Linked DNA regions of Homo sapiens: regions 2 and 3 are each linked to region 1. The links come from fine-mapping of genetic effects on gene expression. A gene starts in region 1. Each other region holds a variant in brackets. All regions are shown on one strand. Distances are from middle to middle.

Evidence for each region. PIP is the estimated chance that this variant, and not a neighbour inherited with it, causes the effect.
Region 2: its variant is the best candidate, but not a certain one, in a credible set for the expression of ZNF217 in monocytes (Quach 2016, PIP 0.87).
Region 3: its variant is the best candidate, but not a certain one, in a credible set for the expression of ZNF217 in skeletal muscle (GTEx, PIP 0.68).

The regions. Positions count from the first base shown.
Region 1 is chr20:53,591,477-53,595,706 of GRCh38, forward strand. It overlaps ZNF217 (zinc finger protein 217), which reads right to left and starts at 2,363. Exons shown (of 6, transcript NM_006526.3): 1 at 2,280-2,363. RefSeq lists silencers at 1,074-1,313, 1,734-1,883, 2,374-2,453, 2,544-3,383.
Region 2 is chr20:53,560,693-53,564,922 of GRCh38, forward strand. It overlaps ZNF217-AS1 (ZNF217 antisense RNA 1), which reads left to right. Exons shown (of 6, transcript NR_110051.1): 3 at 2,057-2,175. Among named protein-coding and RNA genes, the nearest start is that of ZNF217-AS1, 10 kb to the left of the region's middle. The variant C/CT (reference allele first, on the strand shown) is at 2,034.
Region 3 is chr20:53,650,172-53,654,401 of GRCh38, forward strand. No RefSeq gene overlaps it. Among named protein-coding and RNA genes, the nearest start is that of ZNF217, 58 kb to the left of the region's middle. RefSeq lists an enhancer at 3,031-3,080. The variant T/G (reference allele first, on the strand shown) is at 2,285.

The DNA of each region.
Region 1 (4,230 bases):
GCCTTGGAACTACTGACAACTGTATTTTAAATAACTTACTGCCTCTTGAATTTAAATATAACCGATTAAAAATGGCAGCAACATCAGGGTTAAGAAACAAAACGAAACACTATTAGTCTCCAGAACCCTGAACAAAACAATATCTAAAATAAATATGACTTCCCAGAAGGAAAAAAGTTATCTACCATTAAGGACACACCTTAAAAGTTCTTAGCACACATTAAGTAAGCACAAACTAGTGGCTTGCCTGTTATATTTTCAGACAAAAAGCAATGAGGTTATTCCTCTGCACTTGTCACTGCAGACACATCAAGGCTTTTAGAAACTACATCTATTACTCGTTGTCTAAGTATCATAAAACTTAGCATTTTAAGTCTTGTTTGATATCAATCAAGAAAGAACATCCACTTCAGGGGAAAGAAGTACAGTAAAATAAGAACATTGTAAATCTCCTTCTTGACATATACAAAAGAGAAGGTAAAAGGCCTCCTAAGACCCCTACCTAGTGGCCAGGCCTGGACGGCAGCTGTTGCTACCTCGCCTTTTCTTTTGTTGAGCTTAATCTCATGTCAAGTCATTCAACCAACTCAAAAGCAATGAAGACATAATTGAATCAACCTGAACTAAATCAGACCTAGGCTTCTTAAAACATACAGCTTAATGCTTCCAAACGATCTAGAAAACTGAAAAACCTAGCTACGCTGTAGGACACACAGTGGCCAATAATACAGGACCCCCAAACTGGCCAGTGGACCACTGCAACCGCCATTTACTTTCTCCGTGTTTAGGAATGTTCAACGCTCCAAGCCCCATAGACTGATTCAGGAAGATAAACTGAGGCTCAAGGAATTTCGAGGTAGAACAATACACCAAAGCCTTAAACCTGAAATGACTACCCTTTTCTGGGGGGTGGGGGGAAAGAAAAAGAAAAAAAAGTTTCTGGGGCTCTCAGGGCGGCCCAGATGCCAGGGTCCCAGAAGTGGCCTTTTCTAGCTCCTGTAACTAAACCTGGCGGAAAACTCCCTGCCTGCTCACCCCACCCCCACCCGCCCAAGAAAGCGCCTTCCCGTCTTCGGTGGCCCTACCCAGAATCCCAAAATGTGGGTTCCAACCCGGGCCCTGAACATCTTCTCAAACTCCCGGGACCCAGGTTCCGGCGCGCGCCCCGCGTGCCGGGTCTTGCCCCTCGGGCGGGACCGCCCAGGCAGCCCCAAATCCAGCCTCCCGGGCCCCCAGCAGCGCCCTCCGCCTCTCCACCATCCCGTCCGGCTCGCAGTCGGGGCCAAATCGAGAGACAAGAGGGCTGTGCCTGAAACTGAGCGGTTTCACCACTCGGCACCTCCTGGCAGAAACTTCCCTTAAAAAAAAAAAAAAAGAAAAGAAAAAAAAAAGCAGCAGCACTTTTGGGCTAGCATTTCAATCCTTCCTGCCCTTTAGAGTTCCCAGTTCTGCTTCCAGCTGGCTTTGGGTGTTCCACTAGAATTGAGTTGTAAAGATATTCTTTAAGTGTTTATAGAACATTAAGACTTAAAAAAATCTTTAAAATTAGAGGAGGGAAAAAAAAAGCCACCTTATCGCACACATCCAGGAAACGCAGCCCCGTGCATCCCTGTTCAGGGATGAGCAGGCGCCCCAAGACTCCCGGGGACAGATTTTTGGGCACCCGAGGGAGTCACGGGGCGCGCGTCGGGGTCCGCGGCGAGGCCCAGCCCCTCCCGCGGTCCCTTAGAGGCGCCCTCCGCCCGGCCCGAGTGGACCGTCCCGGCCATTGTTTACGGGGGGATGCCCGTCCGGACGCATTGTTTTGGCCGCTTCCAACTTGCCCCGGCCCTTCCCCGGGCATCGCGGGGGGACCCTACGCCGACGTTCCCCCTCCGCCCGCGCCCCAAGGGCCAACTGGGCAAATTGGGAGACCCGCCCCGCGGGGCGACCCAACTTTTCGGAACAGCCCCCCACCGCCCACCCCCGCAGACCCCCGCTCCCGGCGGAGATTCAGGGAACCCCGCACCCCAAGCCCCTCTGAATCGTGCGGCGTGAGTGTGACGGCCAAGAGCGGATGCAGCCCGGGATCGCCCGCACCTTCCCGCGGGCGGAAGCGCAGGAGCCGGCTGGGGAGGGGGCGCCCTAGAGGAGCGGATAGAAAGCTGAGACGGGGAACTGAGGTCATCCTGGGGGGGGACAAGACAACGAGAGCCGGGCGCCTCGGGGGCGGCGCGGGAGCCTCCGCAGGACCGGGCGGGCGCCCCGGCTGGCGCGGGCGGGGGGCGCGCCCCCTTTACCTGCGGCTCCGGCTCCTCGGCCATTTCCTCGCGCGGCGGCGGCCGGGACTGAGCTGACACCACTCGGGCCGGCCGGGTTTGAATGAGGAGGAGCGGGCGCGGAGGGGAGGGGGCGGGGAGGGCGGAGGGAGGGAGGGAGGCGTCGCGGAGTTTCTCTCAGCCTTTTGTGCGGACACCTCCCGGATTCCGCGCCCGCACCCGGCCCCCCAAAAGACACGGGGAGCCGCGGGCGAGGGGTGCAGCCATCCGCCGAGGAGCCTAGTGCCTTCGCGCCTCCAAGACCCCCCCCCAACAAAAAAGGAGCGTCCCCCACCCCCACCCCCGCCCGGAGAATATAGGGGCCGGGCTCACCTCGGGCGCGGGGCTAAGGTGAGCGGGGCGGGGGTGCGCACGGGGGCAAAGGCGCGGGCGCCCCCTACTCGTCCGCGCGGGGACAGTGCAGGCGCGGGGGGTCCCTAGAGCCGCCGGGGCGCGGCGCGTCCGGCGCTGGGGGACTGTTGGGTCAGAAAGTGTTCAGGGAGCAGCTGTTGCGCCCTCCCTCGGCCCCGCCGCTCGGAGACGCCCCGCCCCCTGCCTTCACCGGCCGCCCCGCCCCCTGCCTTCACCGGCCGCCCGGCCACGCCCCACACCGCCCCGGCCCCGCCCCAGCGCCCACGTGACTAGCATAGGCGCGCCCCTGCTCCGCCCCCCGCCGCCGACTCCGCCTCCGGGACGGGAGCGAGCGGCGAGCGCGCGCACTCCCAGTTCTCGCTCGGCGACTCCCGCGCACGCGCGCGCCGTGCCACCCTCCCCGCGCCCCCCGCCCCGCACCCCTCCTCCCGCCATCCGGCTTAACGTGGCGGGCGCGCGCCGCGGCGGTAGCCGTGACAGGTACCCGGGGAGGCCGGAGGGAGGGGGCCGCGAGGGTGTGCGCAGGCGCAGATCCGGCCCTGTCCCCGCCGCCCCCTCCTCTGCAAGGTGTGCGCGGGCGAGGGGAGGGGCCCGCGGCCCGAACCCCTGGGTCACCCCGAATTACAAACAAAAACCTTAACGCCGTTGCTCGCGGGTTAGAAGGCAGCTGTGCGCGAAAAACACCAAAGATTTTCTTCAAGCTTGAGGAAGGTCGAGAAGATAAACAGTTTTTAAATGAGTATCTTCAGAAAGCTATTTAATTGTTGTGATTTTTTTTTTTCTGAAAGGGCTGGGCTTGCGCTATTCTAACTTGAGATTTCTAAACTTAGCCTAGGTTCCAAGAATCTACTTGGTTTTGATAGAAATCCATTTGGAGGAAACCGGGGACAAAAAAAGGGACAAAAAAAAAAAAAAAAAAACCGCTACCCTTTCCCCTCCTCCCTACGCACAACTCATTTAAAGCGTTTCCCAAATGTTTTCTTTCCTTACTGAAAAAAAGGACAAAAAAAAGATCCTGATTCCTAAGGCCTGTGATATTTCCCCATTTTAAATAAGCTTCGAGGAACCATAGACATAACAAGCACATCCACAATTTTTCTACCCCAAAATGCAAACTAATGCAAATGTGAAATGGATCTATGCAAGTCGCTACTAACAAAATAGCCAAATATTTGTGTTTTTACCGGCCTTCAGCATATCCAAAATGAAAAAACTTTAAAACACATCAAGAAAAGCATTTAAAATATCTATTTCCTAAATCAAAAGAAAGAACGCACTACAGAAACGATCCGGAGCTGGTGAGCAATGCAATCTTAATAAATAGGAAAAGGAATTTGAGAAGACAGCTCAGCAAAGGGGAAGAATTTGCCAAGTGTCATGTTTTGCTGTCATTTTATATATAACTACTAACCCCACATATGGTCTGGTTAGTCTTTTTTAAAAAGGAAGCGAATCAATTACTCACAATTAATTAGCAGTGCCAGTAGATTCTTAGGCCAGCACTAAAAAACTAAATTGGGTGAATTTTTTTTCACTCAAGTCCACTGATATTGATCACTTT
Region 2 (4,230 bases), 31 kb before region 1:
CTGGGGCAAAGTGGAGAACACAATGGCAGTGAGAGTTCCTTTTTTTCTTCTTCTTTTAATTAAATTGGGTTTTTGGGGCCAGGAGTGGTGGCTCACACCTGTAATCCCAGCACTTTGGGAGGCTGAGGCGGGCAGATCACTTAAAGTCAGGAGTTGGAGACCAGCCTGGCCAAGACGATGAAACCCTGTCTCTACTAAAAATACAAAAATTAGCCAGGCGTGGTGGTGCATGCCTATAATACCAGCTACTCAGGAGGCTGAGGCAGGAGAATCGATTGAACCCTGGGAGGCAGAGGTTGCAGTGAGCCGAGGTCATTCCACTGCACTCCAGCCTGGGTGACAGAGCAGAGCAAGACTGTCAAAAACAAGGAAGGAAGGAAGAAGGGAGGGGAAGGAAAGAAGGAAGGAAAGAAAGAAAGGGAGGGAGGGAGGAAGGAAGGAAGAAAGAAAGAAAAAAAAACTGGGCCTTTGGCATCACTGGAAATAAATATCCATATAACAGCGGTGTCATTTTGCTCTGCTGTTACAATCACTAAGCACAAGGACTACACTAGGTAATGAACATACAAGCTAGCTCAAGGAACTTTAAATTTTTTTGAATTATAAAAAATTTAAAGTTTATTAAAAGCGTTACTAATAGAGTTTCATCTTTTCTGCCGCATTTGAAATAACACAAATGTTCCCCACAGCATTTGAAATAACACAAATGTTCCATCTTTGAAAAGTTGCTCAACTATCAAAGTTGAATTTCAAAGCTGGTAGAACAAGGAACTGGCAAACTTTGTTAACACCCGTGCCACCTGGAGGTGACACTTTATGGCACTAAGTAAAATGCCCCATCATTGGTCAGTTAGTTCCATTGAGAAAAATAGCCTTGAATAGTTCAGATATTCAGTTATTGATGGTCTTCAAGAACGCACTTCTCCCCTACAATTTGGCAGAAGTGTGTTGTGCTCATTGCCTTCTTCATAACTAGAGACTGGTTTGGTTCCCAATGCAACCAAATCCTCGTTATTGCTTCAGCTAAATTCACACACATAACCATTTTGCAAAACTCACCCAGCCTGGGCAACATAGCAAGACCCTACCTCTACAAAAAAAAAAAAAAAAAAAAAAACGCACAGAAATTAGGCCGGGTGAAGTGGCTCACAGTTGTAATCCCAGCACTTTGGGAGGCCAAGGCAACAGATCACTTGAGGTCAGGAGTTCGAGACCAGCCTAGCCAACATGGCAAAACCCTTTCTCTACTAAAAATATAAAAATCAGTTGGGTGTGGTGGCATGTACCTGTAATCCCAGCTACTCGGGAAGCTGAGGTGAACCAGGGAGGCAGAGGTTGCAATCAGCCAAGATCACACCACTGCACTCTGCACCTAGGTGACAGAGTGAATTCTGTCTCAAAAAAAAAAAAAAAAAAAGATTAGCCAGGCATGGTGGCAAGCACCTGTAGTTCCAGCTGCTGGACAGGCAGAGGTGGGAGAATCCCTTAAACCCAGGTCAAGCCATGATCGCACCACTGTACTCCAGCCTGGGAGACAGAGTGAGACTCTGTCTCAAAAAAAAAAACAAGTTATTATTATTTTTCCATTGAGTTGGTCTTGTTCTGCTGCCCAGACTGGATAGAGTGCAGTGGTACAATCATAGCTCACTGCAGCCTCAACCTCCTGGGCTCAAGTGATCCTCCCACCTCAACCTCCTGAGTAGCTGGGACTACAGGTTTGCAACACCATGCCCAGCTAATTTTGTTATTTTATTTTATTTTATGTATAGACAGAGGTCTCACTCTGTTGCCCAGGCTGGTCTCGAGCTCCTGGCCTCAAGCAATCCTCCCATCTCGGCCTTCCAAAGTGCTGGGACTACAGGCATGCACCACCATGGCCGGCTAATTTTTGTATTTTTTGTAGAGATGAGGTCTCTCCATGTTCCCCAGGCTGGTCTCAAACTCCTGGGCTCAAGCGATCCACCCTCCGCGGCCTGCAGAAGTGCCGGGATTACAGGCAAGAGCCACCATCCCTGACTAAAAGATTTTCTTTT[C/CT]TTTTTTTTTTTTTTTTGAGAAGGAGTCTCACTCTTTCGCTGAGGCTGGCTTGCAATGGCACGACCTCAGCTCACTACAACCTCTGCCTTCTGAGTTCAAGCGATTCTCCTGCCTCAGCCTCCCAAGTAGCTGGGATTACAGGTGAGTACCACACCTCGCTAATTTTTGTATTTTTAGTAGAGACGGGGTTTCACCATGTTGGCCAGGCTGGTCTCCCGACCTCAGATGATCTGCCCACCTTGGCCTCCCAAAGAGCTGGAATTACAGGGGTGAGCCACTGCGCCCGGCCAAATTTTCTTTATATTAACATGTAGTGGGATTATTGTTGTTCTTGAATTTGTAAATTATTTAATAGTTTTCCATATCTATTAAGGTAAATATCAATAGCTGTAACCTATTCTTTTTTTTTTTTTTTTTTTTTTTTTTGAGACGGAGTCTCGCTCTGTCGCCCAGGCTGGAGTGCAGTGGTGCGATGTCAGCTCACTGCAAGCTCCGTCTCCCAGGTTCATGCCATTCTCCTGCCTCAGCCTCCCGAGTAGCTGGGACTACAGGCACCAGCCACCACGCCCGGCTAATTTTCTGGTATTTTTAGTAGAGACGGGGTTTCACCGCGTTAGCCAGGATGGTCTCAATCTCCTGACCTCGTGATCCACCCGCCTCGGCCTCCCAAAGTGCTGGGATTACAGGCGTGAACCACCGTGCCCGGCCAAGATTCTTTATAAAGCATTAATTACATGGCCACCTCCTTTCATCCTCTAGGACCTGTTAGGTCCTGTCCTGACCACCCAGCTCTCGTGGGTTCTCCTAATTATTCTCAGTCTCCTGCTGATTTCCTCCCCAGCCACTACAGCAGGGCCATAACTGGTCTGTTGACCTTTTCTCCCCTCCCCTCCCCTCCCCTCCCCTCCCCTCCCCTCCCTTCCCCTCCCTTCCCTTCCCTTCCCCTCCCCTTCCCCAGCCCTTTTCTTTCCGAGACACAGTCTTGCTGTGTCACCCAGGCTGGAGTGCAGTGGCACGATCTTGGCTCACTGCAACCTCCTCCCACCAGGTTCAAGCAATTCTTGTGTCTCAGCCTTCCAAGTAGCTGGGATTACAGGCGCACACCACAAAACCCGGCAAATTCTTGTAGTTTTAGTAGAGACGGGGTTTTGCCATGTTGGCCAGGCTGGTTTGGAACTTCTGACCTCAAGTGATCCACCAGCCTGGGGCTCCCAAAGTGCTAGACTTACAGGCATGAGCCACCGCGCCCAGCCATGATGACCTATTTTCAATGTCTTCCACCACCAGCAACCCCACAAAGACAGCCCCAAGAGGGTAGGAAATGCTACCTGGTTCATGAGACACATGTCCCTGGCACCCAGCCAGTACTAGCCCTAAGCGCCTGGCACTTAGTGAAAGCTCAATAAAGATATACTGAAGAAATAAAAGCAGGTAGAGAAAAGACCACCAACTTCAACCTCTCCAAAGTAGATTTCTTCGAGTCATTTGATGTTCAGCAGAAAACCGTGTTCTTTTAAAAAAAAATTTTTTTTCAGCGTTTTTTTCGTGTGTGTGTGTGTGTGTGTGTGTGTGTGTGTGTGTGTGTGCTGTTTCATTCTCCAGGAAAACAATGAAACAGTGCTAAAATCAGCCTGTGCTAGTGTGGACTGTAAACTCCTTTTTAAATAAGAAAGGGAGATATAAATAGACCTGCAAATATGCCTGTATTTTCAAAAAGAATTAATGAAAAGATAAATCAAAAATTAATTTTTAGGCTGGGCGCAGTGGCTCACACCTGTAATCCTAGCACTTTGGGAGGCTGAGACAGATGGATCACCTAAGCTCAGGAATTCAAGACCAGCCTGACCAATATGGTGAAACCCCATCTCTACTAAAAATACAAAAATTAGCCGGGCTTGGTGGCATGCGCCTGCAGTCCCAGCTACTCGGAAGGCTGAGGCAGAGAATTGCTTGAACCCGGGAGGTGGAGGTTGCAGTAAGCCAAGATCGTGCCACTGCACTCCAGCCCGGGCTACAGAGCGAGACTCATTCTTAGAAAAAAATAATAATTTTTAAAAATGGTTACTTTAGGCTGGGCGCGGTGGCTCACGCCTGTAATCCCAGCACTTTGGGAGGCCAAGGCAGGTGGATCATGAGGTCAGGAGATCTAGACCATCCTGGCTAATACAGTGAAATCCCATCTCTACTAAAAATACA
Region 3 (4,230 bases), 59 kb after region 1:
GCTTTATGAGGATTTGTCCAGAACTTCACACAGGAAGAGCTCAATACATGCTTATTACTCTTTTATTATTTTCATCAATATTATTAATCCTACGGTTGTGTACCACAGAACAAATATTTAAGCAATAACATCAAAATTTCAGAAAACTAAATGGGCTAGTTACTGTATTTTGTCGAACCTAAAACGTCACCATTTGTGAGATTTTCCATTATTTTATTTACTTATTTATTTATTCTGTAGAGTTGGGGTCTCTGTCACTATATTGGCCAGGCTGGTCTCGAGCTCCTGGGCTCAAGCGATCCTCCTATCTTGACCCTTCAAAGTGCTGGGATTACAGGCATAAACCACTGCATCTGGGCATGTTCCATTATTTTACGGACTATTAAATAAATGTTTTCAAATAATAGCAAGATGCCATTGACTGCAAAATACATATTGATTTTAGTTATATTAAAATGTAAAAACTAAAGTGCACTTTAGAATTGATAAAATATAATATTTGGGCCGGGTGCAGTGGCTCATGCCTGTAATCCCAGCACTTTGGGAGGCCAAGGTGGGCGGATCACTTGAGGTCAGGAGTTGGAGACGAGCCTGGCCAACACCCCGTCTCTACTAAAAATACAAAAATCAGCTGGACATGGCGGCTGAGCGCTTGTAATCCCAGCTAATTGGGAGGCTGAGGCAGAAGAATAGCTTCAACCCGGGAGGCGGAGGTTGCAGTCAGCTGAGATCCCACCAGGGCACTCCAGCATGGGCGACACAGTGAGACTCCGTCTCAAAAAAAAAAAAAAGAATATTCTGAGAATAAGTCTACATATTGGGTGCAGCATGCACTGGGGTGACGGGTGCACTAAAATCACAGAAGTCACCACTAAAGAGTTTATGTAACCCCAAAACCACCTGTACCCCAAAAGTTATTGAAATAAAAGTTTAAAAAATTAAGCTATTATAGGCCGGGCACGATGGCTCATGCCTGTAATCCCAGCACTTTGGGAGGCCAACGCGGGCAGATCACCTGAGGTCGGGAGTTTGAGACCAGCCTGACCAACATGGAGAAACCCCATCTCCACTAAAAAAATACAAAATTAGCCGGGGGTGGTGGCACATGCGTATAATCCCGGCTACTCCGGAGGCTGAGGCAGGAGAATCACGTGAACACGGGAGGCGGAGGTTGCGGTGAGCCAAGATCGCACCATTGCACTCCAGCCTGGGCAATAAGAGCAAAACTCCATTGCAAAAGAAAAAATTTTTTTAAAAAAATTAAGCTATTATCATTACATATGTTTATTATACTCTTTGCACATAAAAGTTTATACATTTTCGGCCGGGCGCGGTGGCTCACACCTGTAATCCCAGCACTTTGGGAGGCCGAGGTGGGCGGATCACAAGGTCAAGAGATCAAGACCATCCTGGCCAACATGATGAAACCCCGTCTCTATTAAAAGTACAAAAATTAGCTGGGCATAGTGGCACACGCCTGTAATCCCAGCTACTAGGGAGGCTGAGGCAGGAGAATCGCTTGAACCCGCGAGGCAGAGGTTGCAGTGAGCCGGGATTGTGCCACTGCACTCCAGCCTGGCGACAGGGCGGGACTCCATCTCAAAAAAAAAAAAAAAAAAGTTTATACATTTTCTAACTTTTATTGTACATTTCATTTTATCAACATAAAATTAACCTTTGGTTACTAAAAAAAATATATTGATAGATGGCAAGCATGCTTCCAAACGGATTGGACTTGTTGTAGTCAATTGATGTTTATGATTTAAAAAAAAAAAAGAAAACAAAACCTGTTCATTTAAACAATCATTATTATTTCCAGGTATTTTATGAGGAAGGGGCTTACACAGACATTTCTGTAACTAATAAATTATTTTTCTGCTTCTTTAGAGTTAATTATTCACAGTTACTTTGCGTAGTTACATGAGTTAGCTCTTCCCAACATTAGTAGTATTTGTTTTGTTTTGTTTTGTTTTTGGAAAATTTTCATCTAAATCACCGTGGGATATAATCACCATTCCACATGTTGCTTTGTTCAGTTGTACAGTACCTACCTTAGCCTCTGTAAAATTTGGTAAATATCACTGCTTTCTGGTTAAGTTCTGTGGAAGAAGGCAGAAAAAAAAATTACACCTCCCATGTCCCTTGTTGAATTAAGAGTACACAGACTTCTCTTTCCCCTTTTTTAAAATAAGTATCGTGGCAGTTGAAAACAGGTGCTAATTCAGTTCATTCACGATATGAGAAAGATCAATGTACATTTGAAACTCTCTTCAGAGCAGAAAAT[T/G]GTTAAGAGTTGCGCAAAACAGAAAGCAGGTCCTTTTCTAAATATAGCAACGTCATATGACCCCACTGGTCTTTGTACTCAGAGAATTAAGGTATTAGACACATTGCTCCACGGATGCAGCATATAATTACTCTGGGGAAGAGGGACTATGACCAACGAGCACAGATATTAATATAAATATTGGGCTTGTGTCTGTCCTTTTTGATCTAAGGAAATAGACTTTTGAATGTTGCTGGGACATCCCCACATGACAGCTTGTCAACTGTGTAAACTTTCCCACTGCACACAGAAAACAGTTCTTCCATCTCTTTGGTTTTATTTTTATACCCCTTTTCACAGCAGTCAATGTTTAAACACTTTTCAAACAGTAGACTTTTTTTTGTCTATTTCCTTCTTTAACTGTGAGGTCTCAAACTGATGCTAATTCAGTTTTGTTGGTTATCATGATCATTTATGATACTAGATAGTTCTCAATTTAGGTCCCCTGTAATTAATCTCTGTGAACGTGGTGTTTTGTTTGTTTTGTTTGGTAACAACTCTTTACAGGGTAATTTGGACATGTATCCTTAAAGCTTTTAGTGCTTTTTAATTTTTTTAGTCTTTATTTTTAAAGACCATTTCAAGTTTACTGTGTATCTGGGAGAAATTAAAGATTAAATTGGGAGTGCAATGTTCAAGAGCTATCACTGCATTTAAATGTGTTTATCTGCAAGCTAAAATTCTTAACACCACCATTCTATTTTGCAGGAGGTAAGTCTTTCCAGCCAAGCAAGGGTTTGCAAAGCCGAGGTTAGTCAGTAAGGGCCGATACATATTAAAATTGAGAAAAGGCCTGTCCAAGCTTGGGGAAAAGCAGCTGTTCTCACACTGCTATCAGCATTTATCAAGGGGGAAATTTTTGTGTTAGCCCTCTGGGCCCACGGGAGGGAAGGAGTAGAAGGAAGTAACTATGATAGTTGCATATTTGAAGGAAGCAGAGGCCTCAGCTGGTTGCTAAAAAATCAATTTAAAAAATAAATGATGGAGCTCAGGCATACGGCAAGTTGTGGACTGAGAATTTGGTTTCAGGATTAGGGTGTTTCTACTTGGAAATTTACCATCCAGTTCCCTGGACCTGTCTTGGGGCATTTTTGTTGTTGTTGTTGTTGTTGTTTTGTTTTGATTTTTTTTGAGACAGGGTCTCACTGTCTCCCAGGCTGGAGTGCAGTGGCGCGATCTTGGCTCACTGCAACCTCTACCTCCCTGGTTCAAGTGATTCTCGTACCTCAGCCGCCCAAGTAGCTGGGATTACAAGTATGGGCCAGCACATCCGGCTAACGTTTGTATTTTTAGTAGAGATGGGGTTTCACCATGTTGGCCAGATTGGTCTCAAACTCCTGACCTCAGGTGATCAGCCTGCCTCCACCTCCTAAACTGCTGGGATTATAGGCGTGAGCCACCGCCCCGACTTTGGATTGAGGATACTCATTGATTAGTTTCAGATGTCCCTTATGAAATCAATTTCTTCATAAACCTTTTACTCCATATTGTCTTTTACAAAAAAGAGTACATTTCTGTACTATTATATACTTAAAATTATTTGTTAAACTATGTATTTTTGACAAATAAATCCAAAGACTCCAAATTTTAAAAAATAACCCCTCTTTTCAAAACAGCCTTCCCAAAGTTAAATTAAAAGTTGAGTTGGGGCTGGGCACAATGGCTCGCGCCTGTAATCCTAGCACTTTGGGAGGCCAAGGACAGCGGATCACGAGGTCAGGAGTTCAAGACCAGCCTGGCCAATATGGTGAAACCCCGTCTCTACTAAAAATACAAAAATTAGCTGGGCATGGCGGCGTGTGCCTGTAGTCCCAGCTACTTGGGAGGCTGAGGCAGAAGAATCACTTGAACCTGGGAGGCGGAGGTTGCAGTGAGCCAAGATCGTGCCACTGCACCACTCTAGCCTG